7 linked regions of the Homo sapiens genome follow. The protein of the gene in region 4 purifies or fractionates together with the protein of the main gene of each other region. This does not show direct contact. Each region holds a gene or a part of one and is shown on either strand. Other genes may lie near its edges.

Region 1 (3,500 bases), on a different chromosome or scaffold from region 4:
CTTATAATAACCCTATTGCAGGTTTGACAATTTAAGTCACTTCCAAACTAAACCTTTTAAAAACCTTTTCTCTTAGGATTTGGTGCTATGGAGAAATTTTTGGTAGAATATAAGAGTGCAGTGGAGAAGAAACTGGCAGAGTACAAATGTAACACCAACACAGCAATTGAACTAAAATTAGGTATGTATGCCATTTCTAAGTGATGTTATGTACATACTGTGTGTGTATATATAATCTTTCATTTTAAATTTGAAGTAAAATTTTATGTAAGAGCAGTTATTTATGCAAATGTATGGTTTTCTGCATTTATTGAACATATTCAGATTTTATTCAGTTTTGATTTATGTCATGGAAGGTGTAGATGTTTGAAAGGTGACAGAATTTTATATAAAAAGGAAAGACGGTGGGGCAAAAAGTAATAAGTATATATAGTTTTAGCCTCTTAAAAATATTTTTTACTTTTTTGCCTGTAAGAATAATAAACAATAGCAAATATTGGTGAGGATGTGGAAAAAAACACTTGTATATTGCTGGTGGGAATGTAAAGTGATATAACTATTTTGGAAAACAGTTTGGCAATTTTCTTTTCTGTCTTTTTTATTTTCTTTCCTTCCTTCTCTTCTTTCATTTCCTCCCCTCACCCCTTTTTTTTCTTTCTTTCTTTTTTAAAGAGACAAGGAAGGTCTCACTCTATCACCCAGGCTGTAGTGCCACGGCATGGTCATAGCTCACTGCTGCCTCCAACCCCTGGGCTCAGGCAGTCCTTCTGCCTCAGCCTGCCAGGTAGCTAGGAGACCACAGGTGTGCACCACCCAAGCCTGGCTAATTTTTATAAAAAATTTTTTTTTTGAGACGGAGTTTCACTCTTGTTGCCCAGGCTGGAGTGCAATGGCGTGATCCTGGCTCACTGCAACCTCCACCTCCTGGGTTCTAGTGATTCTCCTGCCTCAGCCTCCCGTGTAGCTGGGATTACAGGCATGCGCCACCACGCCCGGCTAATTTTTTGTATTTTTAGTAGAGACGGTTTCTCCATGTTGGTCAGGCTGGTCTTGAACTCCCAACCTCTGGTGATCTGCCCACCTTGGCCTCCCAAAGTGCTGGGATTACAGGCATGAGCCACCACGCCTGGCTTATAAAAATTTTTTCATAGAGATGGACCCTACGTGTCTATGTGTCCAGGCTCATCTTGAACTCTTGTCTTCAAGCAGTCCCCTGGCTTGGCCTCCCAAAGTGTTGGGATTATAACTGTGAGCCACAGCGCCCCTCCTGGTTTGACAGTTTCTTAAGAAGTTAAACATAAATGAATTATATGACCCAGGAGTTATACTGCCAGGTATCTGTCTACTCAAGAGAAATGAAAATGTATGTTCACGCAAAAACTTGTACATGAATGTTCATAGCTGCGTTATTCACAGTAGCCAAAAAAATGTAAGAAACCCAGATATATATCAGCTGGTAAATGAATAAAGTATAGTATAGCTATACCACGGAATACTATTTGACAATAAGAAGGAATGAAATTCTGATACCTATTGCAGTAAACCTTAAAAAGATTGTGCTAAGTGAAAGAAACTAAACAAAAACACCATATATTGTGTAATTCCATTTGTATGAAATGTTCAGAAAAGACACATCCATAGAGACAGAAAGTAGTGGTTGCACAGTGGAGCGCAGAGTAACTACAAATGGGCCTGACATTTCTTTTGGGAATTATGGAAATGTTTGAAAGTTAGATTGTGGCACAGCTCTGAATTTGCTAAAATTTTACACTTAGAACAAGTGAAAAATAATATATGCTCATGATTCCTGGTTGCATTACTTTCCATGCCTGAGTTTCCTCATTGTTAATAGTACTTCACAGTGGTTACAAAGATTAAATATGGAGTTAAATATCAGTAAAGTGTTTAAACTCCTTGACATGCAGAAAATACTTGGTAAGGGCTGAGTGGAGTGACTGGATGTGGTTGCTGAGATCTGCGTATTTTTTTTACATGTCCCCTCATTTTTCAATTACTTCATTCTTTGATAGTTTGATTACCTTGGAACATCCTGTCATCTGTTGTCTCTGCCCCAGCCTTGGAATCAGCCATTTCTCCAAGGATCCCTGGTTTCTTTTAGTAGGAAATGTTATTTTATTTTATTTTAGAGACAGAGTCTCACTCAGTCGCCCAGGTAGAGTGCAGTGGTGCGATCTTGGTTCACTGCAACCTCTGCCTCCCAGATTCAAGTAATTCTTGTGCCTCAGCCTCCGTAGTAGCTGGGATTACAGGCATGTGCCACCAGCCCTGGGTAATTTTTTTGTGTTTTTAGTAGAGATAGGGTTTCGCCATGTTGGTCAGTCTGTCTCAAACTGACCAAGTGATCCACCTGCCTCGGTCTCCCAAAGTGCTGGAATTACAGGCATGAGCTACTGCACCCAGCCAGGAAATGGTTTTTTATTTTGAGATGGAGTCTCACTCTTGTCACCCAGGCTGGAGTGCAATGACGCGGTCTTGGCTCACTGAAACCTCTGCCTCCTGGGTTTAAGTGATTCTGGTGCCTCAGCCTCCCAAGTAGCTGGGATTACAGGCACCCGTCACCACACCCAGCTGATTTTTGTATTTTTAGTAGAGACGGTTTCATCATGTTGGCCAGACTGGTCTCGAACTCCTGACCTCAGGTGATCTGCCCACCTTGGCCTCCCAAAGTGCTGGGATTACAGGCATGAGCCACCACCCCCAGCCACAGGAAATGATATTTTAAAGCCAAGATTCGGGTGCTAAAGCCAAGATCTAGGTGCTAGGTGAACACATTGCTGTTAGTATTGCTCTAGCATTAATGAGAGCAGGCTTAGTAGATAGAACTTTATTACTTACTGTTCAGTCCCTGCCACCTGCAAGGTGACTACAGTCTCATTTCTTTGACCAAAATTAGCTTTCTGTGTTCTAGCACTTTATATAAATGGAATTATACCATATATACTGGCTTTGTGACTGGCTTGTTTCATTAAGCATAATTTTTATGAGGTACATCATATGTTGTCTGTACCAGTAGTTCATTCCCCATTTTTTTTGTTGTTGTTGTTTGAGACAGAGTCTCACGCTGTTGCTTGGGCTGGAGTGCAGTGGCATGATTGCGGCTCAATGCGATCTCCACCTTCTGGGTTCAAGCGATTCTCCTGCCTCAGCCTCTGGAGTAGCTGGGATTACAGGCGCCTGCCACCACGCCTGGCTAATTCTTTTGTATTTTTAGGAGAGACGGAGTTTCACTATGTTGGCCAGGCTGGTCTCGAACTCCTGGCTTCATGATCGCCTGCCTTGGCCTCCCAAAGTGCTGGGATTACAGGCGTGAGCCACCGTGCCCGGCAGTTCATTCCTTTTTATTGCTGAATACTGTTCTGTTGTTGGATACATCATTATTCGCCAGTTAATAGATATTTGAGTTGTTTCTAGTTTTTGGCTGTTATTGTATGAGTTTTTTTGTGGACATATGATTTTATTTTGGATAAATTCCTAGCTGT
Region 2 (4,068 bases), on a different chromosome or scaffold from region 4:
ATGCTATAGTGTTTGTATTAGTGCCTGGTACATGGTACTCAAAAGACACTAGCTGTAATTATTCTTCAGGACTTTATTTTTTTTACTTTCATTGCTAGCAGTTTTTCTACCCTCTCTCCTGCAGGCATTCTCCCAGAAAAAAGGCTGACTCTGTGGTGCCATTTGAGAGAAATAGGTTCAGTAGATTCTTCCAGAGATGACAAACGAAAAGACTTGATGTGGAAGTAAGAGAAGTAGGGGCGTCAGGACACTGAAGTGAGAGATCTTTTGTTCTCGTGGCATTGGAGAAGCCAGGAAAGAAAAAGGCTTTAGCAGGGACCAGGTGCGTCCACTTTGCAAGTGGATTTGGAGAGAACAAGCAGTGTTCACATATCAGTCCAGCAATGTCTCAAGACTCCTTCCTGGAACAGTCATCAGTTTAATCCAGTGAGGATGGTGTCTCTCTTCTTTCATGAGCATTTTCCTATTTCTGAAATATTAATAAATAGGTGCTTTGTTCCTAGGAAGTGGAGAGAAGTCAAGGAAAATACTCATCATACTCCTAGAAGTCAAGGAAAATACTCCTCGTACTCCTCATGGCCGCTGGAGCCCGCTGCTATGAGGTTATGGAGAACGTCTTGAACATTCCATTCCCCAGCACCTAGTGCAGTGACTAGCATAGTAGGCACTCAAAAAGTGTCTGTAGGATTGTATTTCAAACTTTAGTTGTCTTTCCCAAAGAAGCCTGTCGTGCCCACACGCGGCCGCAAGAAGTCCGCGCCTAGAAATAACATTTATTCTAAGGATCTCTGCGCAGAGATTCTTGGGAAGCGGTTCCCCTCCCGCATTCCCTTGTTACTCCTCCCCTCGGCCGCCTTTGAAAGAAGTGGCACGCCACATGATTCCATCCTTTCTCCCACCTCCAAAGACCTGGCTGATAATGGGCAGGAGCGTAGGCCAACCATAAAACTTTATTTCCTCTTCCAGCCAATAGCAAGAGGCGATGAGTATATGGCTCCTCTTTTGTGACTTCCCCCGCCCCCTTTGATTCCGCCCCCTATTCCTCCACTCAGATTCCACACTTGACAACACATCTGGCCAATGAGAAGTTCCTACTCTGCGTGGGAAGGATGGACTGACTAGATGATAGACGTCCATCCCTGGCCAATGGAATATCAAAAGTGCGGGAGGGGTGTAGAATGCAACCAATGGCGAGGTGCCAGAAACGAGCATCAGGGAAAGGGCGGGACGAAAGTGTTCGCGGGAGGGAGGGGAAGGCCCAGGGAACCAAGCAGCGCTGTCGCCGCCGCCGCTGCAGCCGGAGTTGGAGGAGGGAGAAGCTAGGAAGAAAATGGCGGCCGTGGCTGCAGAGGCGGCAGCGACTGCAGCGTCCCCCGGGGAGGGGGGCGCCGGCGAGGCCGAGCCGGAGATGGAGCCCATCCCCGGCAGTGAGGCCGGCACTGACCCCCTCCCGGTCACGGCCACTGAAGCGTCTGTGCCGGATGGCGAGACTGACGGGCAGCAATCCGCTCCTCAGGCCGACGAGCCGCCGCTCCCGCCGCCACCGCCGCCGCCGGGGGAGCTCGCCCGCAGCCCAGAGGCGGTGGGGCCGGAGCTGGAGGCTGAGGAGAAACTGTCCGTTCGGGTGGCGGAGTCGGCGGCAGCCGCGCCTCAGGGAGGGCCGGAACTTCCACCTTCTCCTGCATCGCCGCCGGAGCAGCCCCCGGCTCCCGAGGAGCGCGAGGAGCCGCCGCTGCCTCAGCCCGTAGCCCCGGCGCTCGTGCCGCCGGCGGGCGGGGACTCCACGGTGTCGCAACTGATCCCGGGCTCGGAGGTGCGGGTCACGCTGGACCACATCATTGAGGACGCGCTTGTCGTGTCGTTCCGCTTCGGGGAGAAGCTCTTCTCCGGGGTCCTCATGGATCTGTCCAAAAGGTACCGCGCCCGCCCCCAGCACCCTCCGGTCCGCTGGGTCCCCAGGGAGGGAGTGAGCCCGGGCGGCCCCCTCTCCCCGAGCCCTCGCTTCCCCGCTGCCCGGGGCCCCGCCCTCTGGTCCTGCGCGGCGCGTGGCGCGCGCTCCGAGTGGGGCAGGCGCGCGAGACCGGGAGAGGGCGGTCCCGGCCCCAGGTGGGCGCCTGCGGGGCAGGTGTGCCACCAGGTGGGAGGGTGCAGGTGCAGATGGGCTCACAGGTCTCACCCCTCACGCCTGGTCTTCTTCTGCGACTTGGCCTGGAGTCACCGTCACTGGGCGGGTGGGTTAATGCAAGATGCAGATGGATTTTTGCAGAGAACGGAGTGTTGGACGGGGGGACGGGGGGGCGGGGGGCATTGCTTGCGAGGAGGCACTTGTCTGTCCTCTAACGTTTAACTTTAGCGGGATTGGAGAAAGGGGTGTGTACATTGGGGTTCCCAAAAGGTTACCTGTCACTCCTTACAGGGGGAAGAGCATTTGTTAAAATGAACCTTTTAACTGTAATTCTTACGGTTAGAAGTCATTCCCGTTAGGTTAACCATTCAACAGAGAAGCATATTTTGCTAATTTTAATGATAGTTTAAGAAAAGTTTAAAGAAGAGATTGGAGATTTTTAAAAAATCCTTTAATGTCAAGGTGGTGTAGCATAAAAATGTTCAAGTAACTTCTAACACCTGGGATTCAGTTTATGTATTAAGGACAAGAAGGTTGAGTTCATCTACAAATTTGGCTTAACCACATTTTCATTTTTTGATTTAAAATGTTTTTGGGCTCTGCTTTCAACAGGGGAAGAGAACCTGTTCTAAGTCTGGAGTTAACCTTTTTATTCTCTTCTTTTGCAGATATGAAGTGCAGAGACTCCCATTCACGGCTTTCCATTCTGTTTCCTGCAACAGCACACGCTCTGATCGTATCTCACCTGTTTGCAATGGCTTATTAGTATGTTTTACTCTTAAACTTGCTTGCTCTCCCATCAAGACCCAGGAATCCTTCTTTCCCATTTGGGGAAAAAAGCCATTTAAAATTTCATATTGAAGTATGGTGTTTGAGGGGAAAGATGAGAGCAGTTATTCTGTATTATTTAATCTCAAATATCTTTTTTTTTTTTTTTGAGACGGAGTCTCACTCTGTCACCCAGGCTGGAGTGCAGTGGCGCCATATCGTCTCACTGCAACCTCCGCCTCCTGGGTTCAAGCGATTCTCCCGCCTCAGCCTCCCAAGTAGCTGGGACTACAGGCGTGCGCCACCATGCTGGTCTAATTTTTGTATTTTTTAACTAGAGCCGGGATTTCACCATGTTGGCCAGGCTGGTCTTGAAATCCTGACCTCAGGTTATCCACCCGCCTCAGCCTCCCAAAGGGCTGGGATTACAGGCATGAGCCGCCGTGCCCGGCCTCAAGTATCTTTTTTAAAAATAATTTTGGATTAGGGCATTTGCACTTCTGTTTATGTTTGTTTGTTTACTTATTTAATAGAGACAGGGTCTTGCTGTGCTGCCTAGGCTGGTCTCAGACTCCTGGGCTCAAGCGATCCTACTGCCTTGGCCTTCCAAAGTGCTGAAATTACAGGCGTGAGCCACTGTGCCCGGCCTGCACTCCTGTTTTCATAATTAGAAAGCAGAATAAGGTGAGTGTGCTTTCTATTGATGTATTTTATTTATTTATTTATTTATTTATTTTTGAGACAGAGTTTCGCTCTTGTTGTCCAGGCTGCAGTGGTACAATCTCTGCTCACTGCACCCTCCACCTCCCTGGTTCAAGTGATTCTCCTACCTCAGCCTCCCAAGTAGCTGGGATTACAGGCATGTGCCACCACGCCTGGCTAATTTTGTATTTTTAGTAGAGATGGGGTTTCACCATGTTGGTCAGGTTGGTCTCAAACTCCTGACCTCAGGTGATCCACCCACCTTGGCCTCCCAAAGTGCTGAGATTACAGGCATGAGCCACCTCGCCCGGCCTCTACTGATGTATATAATAGTAAGAGACACTCTGGTGTGTATGCTGTTGAATGAAACAGAAGAGATGGCCAGTGATTGTGTGAGAATCTGGATTTCAAATCTGCAAAAGGAAGGTGCAGAAGGTAAGTTGTTTTTGGAAATGGAATGGATAAGTGCTCAT
Region 3 (3,500 bases), on a different chromosome or scaffold from region 4:
AGAGCAGGATGAGTCGGCACAAACAGCTGTGTCTGGGTCTGGCCCAGAGCCGGACGCACAGCAGGTACTCAGCCCCCGCCCCCACCCCTCACACACCTCACAGTGTTTCACTCCCTCTCGTGGCCACAGCTTTTTAAGAGGCTCCTTTTGAGCCACTTTTTTTCTTTTTCAAAGCTAATGGGCAACACATTCTCCCAAAGAGAAACTCAGCATTTTGGACGGCTCCAGCAATGTACACAGTCAACCAAGGAATCTTCCCCTAGCCTGGTCTTGGCGGGGCAGGGGATTGTCTGGGGTGGGGGAGGGGGTGGCAGTGGCAAGGGCCGAAGAAAACCTCAGATGTTAAGTGTTATCCAATTAAGCTGTCGCTAAACAACCCAAAGAAGCGGGATTGGGAGGCTGGGGAATGCATTCTGGGAGCAAGACTCTCAGAACGGGTGGGGGCACCGTGGGGGACTCCTGACCGAGGGGCACCGGGCCCTGGCTCATAGTTCAGCGAACATTCTTTACCACTTCCCCTGGCACCCCAAAAAGCCTTCTGGGTGGGAGCTGCCCTTCCTCCCTGGGTCCCCACCTTGCTCCAGCGCTGCCCATGGCACACCCCGCCATCCCGGGGGCCCGCCCCCCACCGCGGCGTCGTCTGTTACCTGACAACTGACACTGGCATCCAAAGGGAGCCTCCGTCTGACCCTCACCCTGAGTCCCGTCACCCGAGACCGGGCGCGCGCTGCAGCACGGCAGGGGGAGGCAGGGCGGGAGAGCGCCCAGGGCACGCAGAGGTGAAGTGATCACGGATGAGTGAGGGTGGGAGGAGGCAGCTATGGGGGCCACCGCTGGCAGCTGGGCAGGCCTGCACGGCCCTGGAGAAAAAACAATAGAAAAGACTGGTCAGTCGGGCCCTGGACTGTGTGAGGGGCACGGGGTGGGACGGGGCTCGGGGCGTGGGGCTCTGCTCAGGCCACCCTTCGGGGGTGGGAGGCCCCCGGGGTGCCAGGCCCTGCAGGGAAGGCAATCGGGACACAGGCGAGGGAATGGGCTCGGGGAGGTGGGCAGGGGGCACTGGGGAGGGCCCGGTTTCCACAGCTGCCAGGCTGGGCTGTCGGGGAGGCAGGACCCCGCCTCTGGGGGCCTGGTGCAGGGGGCTGGGTGAACGGGGGCTGTGAGGACCCACTCTCAGGAAGGACCCCCCACGTGGGGGCCTCTGGAGCAATCAAATAGGTTCCATTTGGGGATTTGTTTCCAAAACTTCGGGCTACCCCTCCCTGGAAGAGCTGGGAAGCTCACAGCCTCCCCTGTTTGCTGTATCAGGATGGGCTGTTCCTACAGGCCCGGGACACCTTGGGTCCGCCTCCAGCCTTGGGTCCGCCTCCAGGTGTCTGGGCTCTGTTAGCCTCCTGTCTGGCAGACCACCAGCTGGGGGCTCTCTCCAGCCCCAAGCACTGAGCGTGCTGCACCCAAAACGCAATGCCCTTCAGAAGGCTTTCACACCCCCCTACCACACCCCAAGAAAACCCTGGCGCTGCTCACCCCCTCCTAACGTCTCGGCCTGGCTTGGGAGGCCTCCCGCCATGTGACAGCAAGGACACAGGGCCAGGGCCGGCCCCGCCTCTGCCCAGCCCCACAGCTCGCTCAGCTCCACAGCAAGGCCTGCATTTGATTTAGCCGTTTATCTTAAATGGCTAAGAGACCACCAGGGCAAAACATTTGTGTGAAGCCCTTGCCAAAACCACAAGTGAAGAAGCCCAAATTCCCTGGGTAAATAATTGAGCAGGGAAGCATCAGAGAGACAAAAAGGAAACGTCAACAAGAGGATGGGCAGCTGGGCCCAGCCGGCTTTGCCAGGGAGGCCCAGCACAGGTCTGCACGGGTGGGAGTCTGCCCACTCCAGGGCCCCCACGTGGATTCCCCCATCGCAAGGAGAGCCACAGGACCCTGCAAGCCACCAGGAGCCAGGAGCCTGTCAGTCTTCATTGGACTGAACTTCCTAACACACTGACGGGAACTGGGGCTTAGAATACCCATTGCACAGACCAGGAAACTGATGGCGTGACTGCAGAAAACTGCAGACATCAGCAGCCCCATCCAAACCCCAGCTGTCTGGCCCCAGAACCAGGGCTCTTTCTCTGTAGCCCTGGTTTCTCTAAAACATGGGTTATCCAGGATCAAGGCATCAGGGCATTTAAGAAGACCCCCTGCTTAGGGATTGCAAGCTGTCAGTGTCCTGTCAAGAGGTCAAAGCTAACACCAACACTGCTCGGAACCCCCTGAACCAACAAAGACCTCATACTAGGTGAGGCCTCGGGCCCAGGGTATTTCTGAGCTGGGGATAGCCCTGGAAGGATGTGGCTGAGGAACCAGTAAACAGTTTCAGCCTCAGATGCTGAGGGGAAGGCCATGCTAGATTTAGTGCCATCCCTCAAGGAAGGTCAGGACCTGCCTCCTCCTGGAAGCCTGCCCTAGCCTGAACCTTCCAGCACTGGACACTGCATTTGATCCTGTCCACTGGTGGTCTCAAATCCCTATGTAGGCCTTCCCTGCAGACCACCGAGGGCTCTGGGTCATCCATCATCATGACAGCCACCTCGCTCAGAAAAGATCCACATTCCACTGGGGGAAAACTGAGGCTTAGGGAGATCTGAGACTGGAACCCAGTTGTGTCCCCGAAGCCCGCAATGCTCTGCTTCCCTCTAGGGCTGCAGCTGGGTAAGTGACCAGGGGTCCTGGGATCTCTAGAGCAACGGCCACATAGTGGGCGGAAGTCTGAGATCCCTGGGCTCAATCCAGCCATTGGAAGCTGCAAAGGCCAAACCCAGGCTCTGGTTCCTGGGTTCTGGGTGAGGCCACGACACAGCCAGCACCATTTATCACTACTGAGAAACCAGCAGAAGCAGCTCGAGGCCTGGTAAGGGTTGTCCCAGGTGCTAAGAAGCTGACTCTGTCTCCGTGGTGGGAGGAACCGTTGCAGAGCAGGTAGAAAACAGGCATCTGGCCACACCCTTCTCCTGGAAACGTCCAAGGTGGGGCTCAGACCAGGGTCTGTAAAGGCGATGTCACACACCACACGTTGTTCCCTGCATAGGGGTCAGGGGGTAGGCCGCCCTGGACAGGTTTCCCCAGAGTCTCATTAGCAATTGTGACCTTGCTGAAGTCCACCTGCTCCAGGGACCGGCTCAACTGAGGCAGGGGAGGGGGGCAGCCGGGAGAGGGGCTTCAAATCCCAAGCTCTACAGGGCCTCTCTGGGGCTCCCAGAGCACCTTCTACACTGGGAGAGGTTTCCACACGGGGCAGCTCAAACCCAGAGCCCTTCCCAAGGGTGGAACTCAAGAAATCTGAAGCTACTGCAAAAGCCCAAAGTGATGAAAGGAGCCACCTACGGCATGACTCCATGGATACGAAATGTTCATAAGAGGCAAATCCACGGACACAGAAAGTAGCAGTTGCCAGGGGCTGGGGGGAGCCAGTAGGGGTGTGAGGGGTGGCTAATGGGCACAGAGTTTCT
Region 4 (3,500 bases):
CAATCATACAATTCCAGAGACAAAATCGAAGCATTTGAAAAGGCAAAATAGCAAACAGATAAATGGTTAAATGACTGCTGCAGTAAGAGGAACTGATGATGAGGACCAAAACAAGTCACTGAAAGTAGAGATGGAAGATCTTGAAAAAGTGTAGCCTGAAAATGATTAGTTGTAACATACTTTGAATAGTTATTAAAAGCTTAAAGTGTACTTTGAAACTTAACAATGAAAGGCTTATTGCTGGCTTTTCAGACTTCTCTCACAAGTTAATTTAAAATTGGACTGCCAATGTAGAAGAGCCTCAAAAAAGACACCACAAAAAACTGAGTACCTTGATAATGTGATTTCCTTCTGGTTTCTGATAGAGTTTTATTCTTCTCTTCTTTTGTAGCCACCCCAAATCTTCTAACATTTCACCACTGAAGGATGACTCCACCAGAATACCCTTGTCACAAATACTCATCGGTTCTTTTTTTTGTTTCTCTACATCTTCACCTTTTGAATGAACATAAATCAGGAACTGATTGCTTGACTCTGAACTCATCAATGTAATACTCCTTTCGGAAAAATTTTCAATTAAACTCTGTGCAGGAAGAAGCTGAAGAGTTAATTCTCCTAGAAATGCTTTCCAGGAATTATCAAAATGATAGGGAGAAATCACAATATTTAACTTTACAGACAAAGGGGAAAAAATACCAACAGTCTCTTCTTTTTCAATTGGTTTTGAGAAGCTCACCACTTTTGAACACCTCTTCTTATCTCTGTGAGCCACTTCTTCCTTTAGACTATCACTTAGAATGATATAATGAGCAGAAGAGGTATCTGAACCTGGGCAGGGCTGCTCGTCATCATCACTTATGATGATAGGTTCATTCCTTCTGTCCTCATGCATATTCCAATGAAGCTGCTGCCTCTTTTCCTCATCTACCCTCACTGGAGGAGCACGTTTCCGTCGGCTGCTCATTTTCAAGTTTTCTTGGCTGGTAACTGTGAACTCTAGAGGACAAATGAAACAACAGGAGGTATAACAAGAGATGATTTAGTATTTAAGGGTTACCAGATGAGAAATTCAGCATAAATTCATAGCCCATAAACATAATATGAAATCTTCTGTGAGATATAAGGCAATGAGTAATTTTTTTACCAGGTCATTATGACTAAGGAATGAACATATTAACCATAATCTCATTTATCAAATAAATTCTAATGGTTTTGCTAGTCTTTAATAGTAAAGGCAATTTGTTGTATAAAATAAAATAAATTGTAGAAATACATTTAATAAGCAATATAATAGGAAGGTAAATCTCTCAATCCCAAGTAATTTAACTGCCCCTCAGAACAAAGCCCAACAATACTTAAAAGAGCGAAACAAAATCCAACACAAATGTCTGGCATCAAATCTAAAATTATCAGGCACGCAAAAAAAATGAAAATAAAACAGAAAAATAAGACCCATTACAAGAAAAAAATCAAAAAGCCCCAGAAAAGACACAGATGATATAATTAGCAGAAACAAACATTCAAACAGCTACTGTAAATATTCTCAATATGTTAAAGGTAGAGGAAAACATGAATATGACAAAGAAAAATGATAGATATACAAGTGACTCCTATAGAATTTATGCAGATGGAAATGCAACATCTAAAACGAAAAACACATTGTATGAGATTACCAGCAGATTAGAAATGGCAAAGAAAAAAAGAAGCAGAATAAGCTTAAACAATGGAAACAACAGTAACAACAGAAACTGTCAAAAATGAAGTAGAGATAAACAAAGACTGAAAAAACAATAAATAGAACATCAGAAACCTACTAGACAATGTTAAGGAGTCAAACATGCATAAAACTGGAATCTCAGCAGCAAAGAATGGAAAGGATACAAAAAACTTTTTGAAAAAATCATGCATGAAAATTTTCCAACTTCTATAAAAACCATCAACTCAGAAAACCAAGAAGCTCAATGAAACCCAATCAGGGCAAACATAAAGAACAATCACAATAAGGTATGCCATAATTAAATTACTGAAAAGTGAGGACTTCTCTCCAGATTGGCCCTATTTCTCTGGTTTAGACACTGCTCCCACCCCACAGCTCTAAACCCAGCAAAATATCTTTCAAAAATGAAGGTGAAAAAAAGATCAACAAAAGCCAAAAGGACTTATCACCTGTATACCTACAATCTAAGTAATGTAAGAAGCGCTTGGGTAGAAGAAATATGACATCAGATGGAAATCTGGATCCACACACAAGGAAATAAAAAGCAAAAACAAAAAATATGTGTATAAATATAGTAAACTTTTTTCTTGATTTTTAAATTTCTGTAAAAGATAACTTACTATACTTTCATTCTGAAAATTTTCAAGCATACATAAAAATTTAGAAAATAGTATAACAGTATAATCAGAGATCTATACAGTGTACTATGTTCATGGACTAGAAGACTCAAAATGTTCAGATGTCAATTTCTTAGTACTGACCTATAGAAAAGCAATCCCATTCAAAATTCCAACAGGTTTGTTCTGTAGAAACTGACAACCTGATGTTAAAATTTATACTAAAATGCCTACAATACAGGAAAGTCAATATAATTTTAGAAAAGAAAAATAAAGTTGAATGACTTACACTGATTCCAAGACATATGTCAAAAGAAATAAAAATGGTGCAGTAGTGGTGTAAAGACCAACATATAGATCAAGGGAAATGTCCTGTAGTGGACCCACACATGGATGGTCAATTGATTTTTGAAAGAAGTTCAGAGGCAGTCAATGGGAAAGGTATCCTTTTAGTAAATGGATACCAATATGCAATGAAATGAAGCTTTACCTCCTAAAATGTAAGAATTAACTAAAAATAGATAATAAACTATAAAAGCTAAAACTAAAACTTCTCAAAGAAAACAGAGGAGAAAACCTAAATGACATTGGATTAGCCCAAAAAAAAGGCACAAAAATTTTTAAGCAGGAAACAAAAACCATAGACTATGTAAGAATATGATAAACTAAGTTTCATCAAAATTAAATATTTTGGTTCTTCAAAAGATACTGTCATCAAAATATGACAGCAAGTCACAGATGGGAGAAAATATTAGCAAATCAAGTATCTGATGAAGGATATGTTTGCAGAATATATAAAGAACTCTCACAAATTAATAGTAAGACAAACATTTAAAAAAGTCAAAAATTTTGAATAGACATTTCACCAAAGATGACCTATAAGTGTAAAATAAGCATATGAAAATATTTTCACCAGCATCAGTCATTAAAGCAATACAAATTCAACCCACAAATCACAATGAGATGCCACTATTCATATACTAAAATAGTCAAAAATTTAAAACACTGAGAGTATGGCTCAAACAGAACTGAACTCTCCAACATTTGAACACAGCACAGTCACTTTGGAAAAGTATCAGTTTCTAATAAAATTGAATATAACTTACTATGCAGCCTAGTAATCCCTCTCTTAGGTATTTATCCAAGAGAAATCAAAACATAAATCC
Region 5 (3,500 bases), on a different chromosome or scaffold from region 4:
AAACATGTTTAGAATATTATAGGCATTCCATTTCTCAGAATAAAAAAAAAATGACTAATTGGCTTATTTTCTTAAGTACTCAAAAGTATCCCATTTAGCTAATGTGTCTGAGAAATACTGCCCGTGCATTTGGTATTTCTTTGATTTTGTGGCACTGCTGAGAGTGAGAGCAGAAAGGTTTTTGGCAGTGTGAATTATGCTGCGACATGATTATTATTTAGATCCGTTTCATAGGTGCATGCAGTCGTTTTCTTATTACAGCAGTGTAAATGTGGCACATTTTTCATGTGACATAGTAGCTTTCTAATTTATGAAGCCATGTCTGTTTACTTAGGAGTATATACATTCACACACAAAGGGTGTGTGTGTTTATTCACCTCTCCTTTCATTCTTTGGCACAATGGACAACTTGGTGTATAGGAAAAAAGAAACAAATTTGGTTTCTATCCACTTTTTTTTTTAACCAGTTTTTCTTGTAGTTATTATTTAAGCTTTCTTTATGTTCCCTGTGTTAACTATTTAAGTAGCATTCTTTCTAAACTTACAAACCAGACACATTTGTTGCTGTGGGTGTGTGCATGGGTATATGTGTGTGTGTGTGTTCTCTGGAGTTATGCAAGGAAGACTGTTTTCTTTACATATGTGATGATTTGCCTCATTGACAAATTTGCTCTCTGGTTGATAACCTTCACATCCTTGTACTTTTTGTATGCTCACATTTTCTGGGTATTATATAGAGAAGCCTAGAAACACTTTACATGATGTGGTGGGATGGCATGGGGTTGAGATGTGCTTCTCCCCTTTCTGTCCTCTCTGGCACTCTAATAATTGTGCTTTTGTTTCTCCAACCACAGCCGAGCCTCTTGAAGCCATTCTTACAGATGATGAACCAGACCACGGCCCGTTGGGAGCTCCAGAAGGGGATCATGACCTCCTCACCTGTGGGCAGTGCCAGATGAACTTCCCATTGGGGGACATTCTTATTTTTATCGAGCACAAACGGAAACAATGCAATGGCAGCCTCTGCTTAGAAAAAGCTGTGGATAAGCCACCTTCCCCTTCACCAATCGAGATGAAAAAAGCATCCAATCCCGTGGAGGTTGGCATCCAGGTCACGCCAGAGGATGACGATTGTTTATCAACGTCATCTAGAGGAATTTGCCCCAAACAGGAACACATAGCAGGTAAATGAGAAGCAAGGAGAAAAGCTGTTTGCATGTTTTCTTTTCATTTTCAGAGGTGCTGTAGCCAAGCAGTAAGGAGTTGTGAAGTGCTTTCTCTATTACTCTATGTGACTGTCCATGACAGCCCTGTAATGTTAAAATAATCATTTCTGTTGCTTACGTCCAGAACACAGAAAAATAAATATTTTCCACCTCACTGAATCAGATGTAGGCAGGATAGGTACACACATCAGACACCTTCTCTCTGGATCTGTCGATTTTGGATTTCTTTTCTTCCCCATCCCCACCTTCTCATTTTGAAGTATTGAGCTTTACTACACCTAGTCCAGCTTCCATTGTCCATTTCCAGCCTTGGTGACGTGTCAGAGGCAAAGTGGCCATATAGGCATTTGCAGTTCAGCCAATGACTTGTTTGACTCAGAACATCTGGCCAGGCCTCCTTAGGGGTTCAGCTCGTTCTCAAGGCTTCCCTGAAGTAGAGTGGGCTGGCAGGGTAGTTGGAGGTGGTGGAAAGAGTTAACTGAGCTTCAGGGCTAGCCTTGGATCCATATTGGCTGTCAGCCCGGATGGGGCTGTAATTAAACACAGCCCCGTGGTGGGATGACACCATGACCTTGACTTTAAGATGCCATTTTCGACTGGCCAGGCCAGAGTAGAGAGGGCAGTTGCTGAAGCGCACAGACATGCTTACTCGAAAAGTTTAAGGGCATGTTGGAAATTTCAAAAGGTTGGTTTGACAGGAACGGCTGCTCCCTGCAGCCTGCCTCCTCAGCTAAATGATAAATGCTTCTCTGTGCTCTCTCTTGTCTCTGATGTGGTTTTGACAGATGTATCTTGATTTTGTTTGTGGTTTACACAGCCACATGTCACCCTTACAAATGTCCAGTCCAGACTCCACTGTTTCTGCTATAACACAATGTAAAAATTTTCTTGGAAAAATACACACACGTATTCAACAGCCCTCCCTCCTTTGGTTAATTTTAGCAGGGAGGCAGCTAGGTGTGTGGGTTTCTCGGCAGCTCAAGGGAAAAGGAATTAAAGGCTAGCAGTGGGACTTAAATTCCCTTCTCTAAGTGATAAACAGTAACACTATATAGTGACCCTCAAAACATTTTTTGCTTGAGCATGTTAGACAAAAGTCAATGCAGATTCTGTGATGACAGACATGCCATGCCTGTTGGTGGATCGCTTTCTTCCATCTACCTACCACCCAGCTCCCGAAAGGCAAGAGGTTTGTTCAGTTTTAGGAAAGGTAGTGCATATCATGAATTGATTCACTGGAACTTGTCTCTCCGACCTAGTTTGACCACAAAGTTGAACCATAATAGGTCAGTGGTCTAGAGGGGATTAAATGTCATATTATTTCTCCTCTCCCCCTCTAGAATTTGATCATTAAAACCAAACATGGCATTTTCTTTCTTTTTTTAGTGCTTTCTGTGATAGCACTCAGATACTTTCCCTTTAGTGAAATGGGAAATCTGCTGCTAGGGAAGCTGCATTTGTGGAGTGTATTTCTTGAATCCACCACATTTACCTTATGTGACATGTAGGTGAAGATTTTATCTCCCCTACCCCCCAGCAGGATGTGGGAATGACCATTTCCATGTGTTGTCTTGTGACTGGAAGGAAAATGAACAGAAGTGTAAGGCATGATTAATGAAGCAAGAGCAGGCGGAAGGGGATTTGTCGTCTTCGGAGATCCAAAGCCTTGCTAAATCACCAAATATGGAGTAACACTTGCGTGATGTAACATCGTATTTACATATCGAGCTGCTCGTTTAAAAGACAAAACACAGTGTCTGTCAAGCAAGAATTAAAACCACACTTCTTACTGAGGTCCCAAATAGGTTATTCAGTCTTAGATTAACCAGCTCAAAAATTCTGTGCCTCTGTATTTAGAGGAGGAATCTAAATGCTGGGGGGAAGGCCTTACATATAGTTAAGACTTTTACTGCTATAGTTGTGAATCTATGTAGGGAAATAAGAGATATTTGCTTGAACTCCCTGGTTGTCTAAAGGTTCTGTTATTATTTTTTTAAAGAACAAGTATAATAGCAGAGCCTAGAGAAGCCAAAACCAAAAGCAAATTTAAAATATATTTTATAGCGCTAATAATCAATCATTTAACTGAGACGAAAAGCTCTCTAAGATGTCTAAGATATTCAATGGGCGCACAACAAGTGCTGTGACCCAGGTGAGGTAAACCTTTCGTGCATGAATAATTACAAAGTCTTGATTTCTTTCATTGTGTTTAATCACCTGTTCCCACCCTGGAACTGGCTGAACATAAATAGTGTGGTCACATCTCAAAGTGAG
Region 6 (3,500 bases), on a different chromosome or scaffold from region 4:
TGAATGAGAGCGCTTTCATGATGAATACAGTAGATGAGAATTAGTGAATTGACCTGTGACATTTACCTACTCAAAGGTGTTTTTGCTTACTTTCTGGTTGTTGAATTTAGTTGGTTTAAGTGACGGTTGGATTACCCAACACTGTAGACATGAAAACGTCAAGAAAAAGGTCATGGTCTTTAAAACAAGCCATTTTGTTGACCTTGTGCTGCATTCTCATGGCACCTAGACTCAGATAACAAAATCCAAAGGAATTCATTAGAGTCTCTTAGTCACTTTTCATCTTTTCTTGTATGAAAAAAATGTAGTTTTGAGAATACACACACACACACACACACACACACACACACACGAGAGAAGGTTTAGAAGGTAGGTATTTTAAAATTTGTTGTGGAAGATAGTGCCAATTAAGTAATTACCCACAGCTTTTAATAGCCCTGCTCAAGATTAGGATTTTAATTAGCATATAATTAGATTTTGATGGTAGTCTACCGCAAGGTAAGCAAAAAAGTAATGGGTAAAATGTTTTTCTAGGATTAAAGCTTTAATTTTCTGTAAGTGTACTTCCCACATTATTATATATATTTGTGCGTATGAGGCAAAGTAATTTTCATTGTTTTGATACTGGAAAACTGCACTTCATATAACCTTTCAAGGAATGAATGATAAACGTATGGATTTGATACCCAATTTTTCTTGTTGCTTTGAAAATAAATATGATTTATATTATATATGGCAGTCTGAAAGTGTGAGTTTGAGGGGCTCTTTAGCAGTTTTCTATTCTCATCCATCCAGGATTACATTCAAAACATTCCATATAGATGTGTACGTATCAGATGCTGTAAATCAAGATGGTTATTATTTGGGTTAGTGTAACTGAATGATATCTGATCAGTGCTACAAAGTAAGAGTCTGGACAAGGTCAAATTCCATAATCTCAGTTTGGATTTCCTCAAAATAGAAATTTTAGTAAATATTGGAAGACATAATGGGGGCCATATTTTTCTTATGTTTAAGGTCACATTCTGTTGATTTTTGACCTAAGTTTTCATAAATAGGTTGACAAAAGCCATGATAGTTTTCACGAACAAATTTGTGTTTTCTCTTATGCAAAGTATGTGTTAAAACTGAAATGCTCTCATCTTTGGTTCTGGTGGGTAGATTTGTGTTTTTATTATTTTATTTCTTGGTTTCTTATAGGGAAGGAGGCTTATTCTATATATGTATTTATATTTGCCAGTACAGGCTTGTCTTTACAAAGGATAGGGTGCATGAGATAACCCCCTTCCCCAGATAATCTCTATATTAAGTTATTGATTGATGTTAGTTTTCGCTAAATTACAATTTAAAAATATCAAACATTAATAGTTAAGTAGCCTTGACAAATTGCTTCTACAAGATGTTTATGCAATATAAATAGTTTAAAGTAGTTTTCTTCCCAGTTAGAGAAAATTAACATAAGCCAAAAGTTTAAAACTGTACTATTATATTAAGTATATGTGATCACATTGCATTACATAAAAAATTAAATATTCTTATAATACTATGAAAACAATTTTAAAAATATCGTTTTAGGAACAGAAACCACAGTTTTTTTTTCTGAAAGTGTGGCGTATTTCCATGACATAAAGGAGTGTTTCTTAGAATTAATATTTACTTTCTTTGAATTATTTGGTTTGTGGTTGATATTAGCCTTTTCTAGATTTTAAAATCTCTTATTTAATGTTTACACATTTTCTTACACTATAAATTAAAGAATGGATGAGAAAGCTCAGTGTCTTGCCTTTTGGGTTTTATTCCAATTAATATTTCTTTGGCATTCACAATTTTTCAGATTTTTTTTATTGGACCTCAGGTGTACAGAACTGGATTAATCATAAGCCTTGTTTTGTGACATGCTCTCATCATTGGTCCATACATGTCCCACATTGATTTATATATTTAGTTATGTAATTACTTTCCGCCTTCTTCTAATGAGAGCATTGACCAGTTTAAGAACCTTGCTTTGCAATTTGGTGACATTTATTTTCTTTGAAATTCTAGAAAAACGTTTCTTCATTTCAACTCAAACTTGCTGCTAAAGCGCCTAAATCTGAAAAGGAAATGGACCCAGAATATGAAGAGAAAATGGTAAATGTAGTCTTGGATAGGATAGTGAATGCTGTAATTAATTTTTATAGTTGAGATGTTAAAGATGAAAAAATACATGTATATATATAATGCATAGAGAATCATTGATTTTAGAATTGGAAAATAATTTAATATACAATCTATCACAATATTTTCTGTTGAATAAATTAACCTCCTCATTTTCAGATGAGGAAATAAAGGATCAGGGAAGCTATATGTCATAGTTAGGACTAGAAGTCACATCTCATTTTGGTTCGGTGCTCTCTGTCCCATAATAAAGTGCTTTAAGCTAGAAATATTTATTTATGAGGTGAAAATATCAGTGGTAATACCACTGTGGCTTTGTGACCTGAGAGAAATCCAGTCACAAAGCCAGATTGACGTATTTTTGTTTCTTTCTCCTTCTTTGGACATATGAATAAATGCTACACATTAATGAAATGTGTAATATGTCAATACACTTTAAAGGGAAGAATATTTGTCCAATGCATGAAGATATCACATATTTAAGCAGCATAATCTTAGTTATACTTACATATTGCTTGCTATAATACATTTAATTATTTAATTTTTAGTTACTAAAATACATATTTTAGCTTTAATTTTAACTAAACTCTTATAACCTTGGATCTTTCAAGAATTTAACAGGTGGTTGAAATGGATTTTTTTTTCCTCTGAGGGGTTGTTTTTGCAGTAATATTATAAAAATAAGTATAGATGAAATATATTTTTTGGTTGTTGATAGCTATTTTATAAGACTTAATGTTTAAGGCCACATCTAATGTAGGTAGGCAATGTTTTAACAACTCTAAAAATAACATTCCAGTGAGGATAATATAAAATGGAAAGTTTTTGGCCTCCTTCCAGCTTGTAGTCTGAATTTATCTAACTCTTATGTTTATGTTAATGAACTCTTCTGTAAGTTTTCTGGGTTATTAATTATGCATCCTTCATTAGCAATCAAGTATTCTCTACTCTGTGGTTGGAAAGTGACTTTGAATAAATAAATAGTCTTTATTTTTTCCTTTATCTAGAATGATGTATATATCTTTTGATCTTTTAAGATTTTTTTAGTGAAACAAAGTTTTATTGCCTGTATATGGTACACGTTCCCTGACCTTTTACAATTTATTGAGAAATTAGAATACATATCAACTTTTAATAGTTAATAAACTATTTCACATATATGTGCATATGTTTATATATTTTTCCCAAATTCTGCTTACTTTGGGGAGAAAGTTTATACGCTACTAGCACAAAATACAGTTTTCTAGATCCCTGTGAGTGAAGAGAGGAGTGTTTATTACATTACTATACCATGACACTGAAAATATTTTGAGACAAGATGATACTGTATTTTAAGATTTAAG
Region 7 (3,189 bases), on a different chromosome or scaffold from region 4:
TGGTTTTTGTTAATTTTGCCTCTATTCCAGCTCCTTACCACAGCGGTGGTGCTTAAAGAAAGGATCATCAGCAACAGGTCAGGATAGTTCTACCTTTGGGATAGGGCTGCTTTCCCCGTGCTAGTATTTCTGTGACTGTTAGTGGCACTGAGGACTGCAAACTTTTATGCAATATTCTTAATACCCTATTGATATTATGCACTTTAATCATTCCAAAGAAGCCAAGAATGCTGTATAGTGATGATTCCTTCCTAATGAATTCATCTTAACTATTTAGAATGTTATGTCCCTTTTCTTTTGGATAGCCAACTTGGTATAAATGTTATATGGATTTTTCTAAAATGACTATATAGGACTTAAGACTTTGAAATGTAATTTACTTATAAGGGGAAATAATTATGCTTTAGCACATCATTTTAGAAACGTCACATTTTAGAAACATTCAGCTTGCTAACCTACATGTTTGGGAATTCATTAAAACCAGTTGTCTATATATTTTGTGCCATGTATATAAGAACATTACAATATATCTTTTTCTACATATGTAGTATGTGCAACCAGTGGTTCTCAGAGTATGGTTCTCAGCCCACCAGCTAGTATCAGTATCACCTGGGAACTAGTTAGAAATGTAAATTCTTTGGCCCCATCCCAGACATACTGAGTCAGAAACTCTGGAATAGGGCCCCCGCAATCTGTTTTCACAAGCCCTCCAGGTGATTCTGATGCACACTTTAAAGTTTAGGAACCACTGGGCTAAGACTCTGTTGAGATATAGAGTTTTTCTTCCACTCAGACTGATATAGTTATACATTGTTCTTCATGTAAATTCAGCTTAACCTGGTTATCTATAATCTTTTATTGGCAAAAGTTAATTCTCAGTACTGCCTATAGAGATACAGTGTATTTTATGTACATACACAATTAGTCTAATTCTTGATAATTCAGTTAATTTAGTTTGGCATTTTCCTACCACTTACTAAAAGGTTTACATTAAATGACTGATTTAAATATATAGGTGCAATGTTCTATGTTTATTTTAATTGTTATGACATTTAAGTAGCTAATATAATTGACCGGTGCTAAAGTCTCCTGTTTATCCATAAAATGGGTACATTATGGGCAGTGTAATACAAGCTTTCTTTTCATTGCCTAGTACTTTACCAGCAGACCACAGTTTTGCCCTGGCTAGACCAACCCTCAGAACAAAATCATCATTCCTTGTATTTATATTTGTATCTGAGATAGTAAACAAGATGGCTGGCCAGGTCAACATGGCACCTTAACTTATTTTTTTAATAGGTAAAACTTCTTCAAAAGTAGCTTGCTTTGTATAAGAACTAAGCTATCAGTATAGATATAGCTATCCTTGGAGCTTATGTTTCAGACAAGAATTATTTACTAAAATAAATAATAAACAAGATAATGCATTATACAATTTGGGCATTTCTCGTTTCTCAAGTGTATGCATCATGGTAAATATAAACTAACCACAAGATAGGTAGATTGATTCATTTCATTTTAATCTCCTTGTGTAATTCAGTACCTCCATAATTGTTCTAATCTTCTTCCCACTGTTTACAAATTACCAGTTAATTAACTCGTGAAAGAAAAATTCACATATCAGAATAAAAATAAATGTATACTCACTTTATAAAAATCACCACTGCTGTCTTTCCTTAATACTAGCAGTGGAAATGTAAGTGGCTTACTCTACAAATTTTGGTGCTGGCAAATACATAGGCAAACTGTTGGGAGCTGCTCTAGTTACATTCCTCCCTTCTTATTCCCTTTTTCTCTTCCTCACTTTATTGCATAACATATTCCTGTACCCAAAGCATTCTACCACAGTTCTATTTGACTCCCACTTGTAATAACTCCTTTAAAAAATTCCATGTTTAACCATATGACCCTGCTTGCTTACTCATATTCTCCCTCCCTCTCCCCTTCCTTTCTCTCTCTTCCAGAAGTCATTTGCCTGGTTTGAAATATTTTGTAGGGATTGCTTATTATATTATTTTAGCTGATGAACCTCAGGACAACGTCTACACACACACACATACATACACGCACACAAAATCTCAGCTGTTGAAGAGTGGGCTTGGAATCAGACTTCTGTGTCCAGTAAAAAACTCCTGCACTGAAGTCATTGTGACTTGAGTAGTTACAGACTGATTCCAGTGAACTTGATCTAATTTCTTTTGATCTAATGAATGTGTCTGCTTACCTTGTTTCCTTTTAATTGATAAGCTCCAAGTAGTTGCTAATTTTTTGACAACTTTAAATGAGTTTCATTCACTTCTTTTACTTAATGTTTTAAGTATAGTACCAATAATTTCATTAACCTGTTCTCAAGTGGTTTAGCTACCATTCTGCCATTTTTAATTTTTATTTAATTTTATTTGCTTGAGCACACTGATCAACCACTGAACTGCCTTCTTCCATTGTCCTGCAATGATATAAGGGTTACATTTTTGTGTATATGGCTTTCATAGTTGGGATTTCAGAGCACTGATACCAGATATTTTCAGTTTGTTCTCTGGGGGAATTTCATTTGCATCTATGTTTTTAGCTATCTGTGATAACTTGTTAAATATTAAAAAGATATTTTGCTTCTATTGGAACATTTGTATACTCGCAACTATATTTCTGTAAACAGCTGCAGTCAAAAATAAAACACTGAAAGTTTTCATTTTGCAGTGGATAGCTGTCTTTTTTTTCCTCAAACTTTGTGAATGGAATTGTGTGCATGAACGACAGTTTTGAGCAGCATGAGTATATGGCTGAAATTATAAAATCATTAGGGAGGAGGTGTGAAATATAGACATATTTCTGAGTAGTTATTTTGTGCCTACCATTTTGCCAGGTAGAGTATAAGTGACTCAGTGTGACAGAATTTTTGTTTTACGTATAATTTAAATGTTTCATGTTTAGTAAAGCAATACATATACACGGAGGTGCTTTTGATGAAAACCAAGTCTCCCCATCCCTTAGTCCCATGCCCAGAGACAATCTCTGTTTATTCTTTTGGTGTTATTTCTACATCTCTAAATTAGCGCATATCAGAGTGTGGTACACAACTACCCGTGGTACGTGGATAAACACTATTTTTAAACTTACATGTATAAGTGTTTTGATGCGTAATAGAAAAAAATATAGGCTGGGCTCAGCGGCTCACGCCTGTAATCCCAG

What was found.
Region 1: the proteins of SHPRH (region 4) and HAT1 purify together in Homo sapiens (affinity purification with mass spectrometry, with the first as the bait; one large-scale study listed by BioGRID). This does not show direct contact.
Region 2: the proteins of SHPRH (region 4) and PWWP2A purify together in Homo sapiens (affinity purification with mass spectrometry, with the first as the bait; one large-scale study listed by BioGRID). This does not show direct contact.
Region 3: the proteins of SHPRH (region 4) and BCL11B purify together in Homo sapiens (affinity purification with mass spectrometry, with the first as the bait; one large-scale study listed by BioGRID). This does not show direct contact.
Region 5: the proteins of SHPRH (region 4) and BCL11A purify together in Homo sapiens (affinity purification with mass spectrometry, with the first as the bait; one large-scale study listed by BioGRID). This does not show direct contact.
Region 6: the proteins of SHPRH (region 4) and SMARCA1 purify together in Homo sapiens (affinity purification with mass spectrometry, with the first as the bait; one large-scale study listed by BioGRID). This does not show direct contact.
Region 7: the proteins of SHPRH (region 4) and NFAT5 purify together in Homo sapiens (affinity purification with western blotting; one study listed by BioGRID). This does not show direct contact.

What each region holds. Positions count from the first base shown.
Region 1 is NC_000002.12:171,925,461-171,928,960, forward strand, and holds part of HAT1 (histone acetyltransferase type B catalytic subunit), read left to right. Parts: intron 1-76; coding exon 77-181; intron 182-3,500. UniProt on the Homo sapiens protein: Histone acetyltransferase that plays a role in different biological processes including cell cycle progression, glucose metabolism, histone production or DNA damage repair. Coordinates histone production and acetylation via H4 promoter binding.
Region 2 is NC_000005.10:160,116,651-160,120,718, reverse strand, and holds the start of PWWP2A (PWWP domain-containing protein 2A), read left to right. Parts: upstream 1-1,268; 5' UTR 1,269-1,330; coding exon 1,331-1,914; intron 1,915-2,793; exon of another isoform or gene 2,794-4,030; intron 4,031-4,068. UniProt on the Homo sapiens protein: Chromatin-binding protein that acts as an adapter between distinct nucleosome components (H3K36me3 or H2A.Z) and chromatin-modifying complexes, contributing to the regulation of the levels of histone acetylation at actively transcribed genes.
Region 3 is NC_000014.9:99,230,698-99,234,197, forward strand, and holds part of BCL11B (B-cell lymphoma/leukemia 11B), read right to left. Parts: intron 861-3,500; coding exon 648-860; intron 1-647. UniProt on the Homo sapiens protein: Key regulator of both differentiation and survival of T-lymphocytes during thymocyte development in mammals.
Region 4 is NC_000006.12:145,954,359-145,957,858, forward strand, and holds part of SHPRH (E3 ubiquitin-protein ligase SHPRH), read right to left. Parts: intron 997-3,500; 5' UTR 965-996; coding exon 332-964; intron 1-331. UniProt on the Homo sapiens protein: E3 ubiquitin-protein ligase involved in DNA repair.
Region 5 is NC_000002.12:60,543,655-60,547,154, reverse strand, and holds part of BCL11A (BCL11 transcription factor A), read left to right. Parts: intron 1-854; coding exon 855-1,184; intron 1,185-3,500. UniProt on the Homo sapiens protein: Transcription factor. Associated with the BAF SWI/SNF chromatin remodeling complex. Binds to the 5'-TGACCA-3' sequence motif in regulatory regions of target genes, including a distal promoter of the HBG1 hemoglobin subunit gamma-1 gene.
Region 6 is NC_000023.11:129,516,991-129,520,490, reverse strand, and holds part of SMARCA1 (SWI/SNF-related matrix-associated actin-dependent regulator of chromatin subfamily A member 1), read left to right. Parts: intron 1-1,843; exon of another isoform or gene 1,844-1,915; intron 1,916-2,043; coding exon 2,044-2,130; intron 2,131-3,500.
Region 7 is NC_000016.10:69,701,966-69,705,154, forward strand, and holds the end of NFAT5 (nuclear factor of activated T-cells 5), read left to right. Parts: 3' UTR 1-2,689; downstream 2,690-3,189. UniProt on the Homo sapiens protein: Transcription factor involved, among others, in the transcriptional regulation of osmoprotective and inflammatory genes. Binds the DNA consensus sequence 5'-[ACT][AG]TGGAAA[CAT]A[TA][ATC][CA][ATG][GT][GAC][CG][CT]-3'.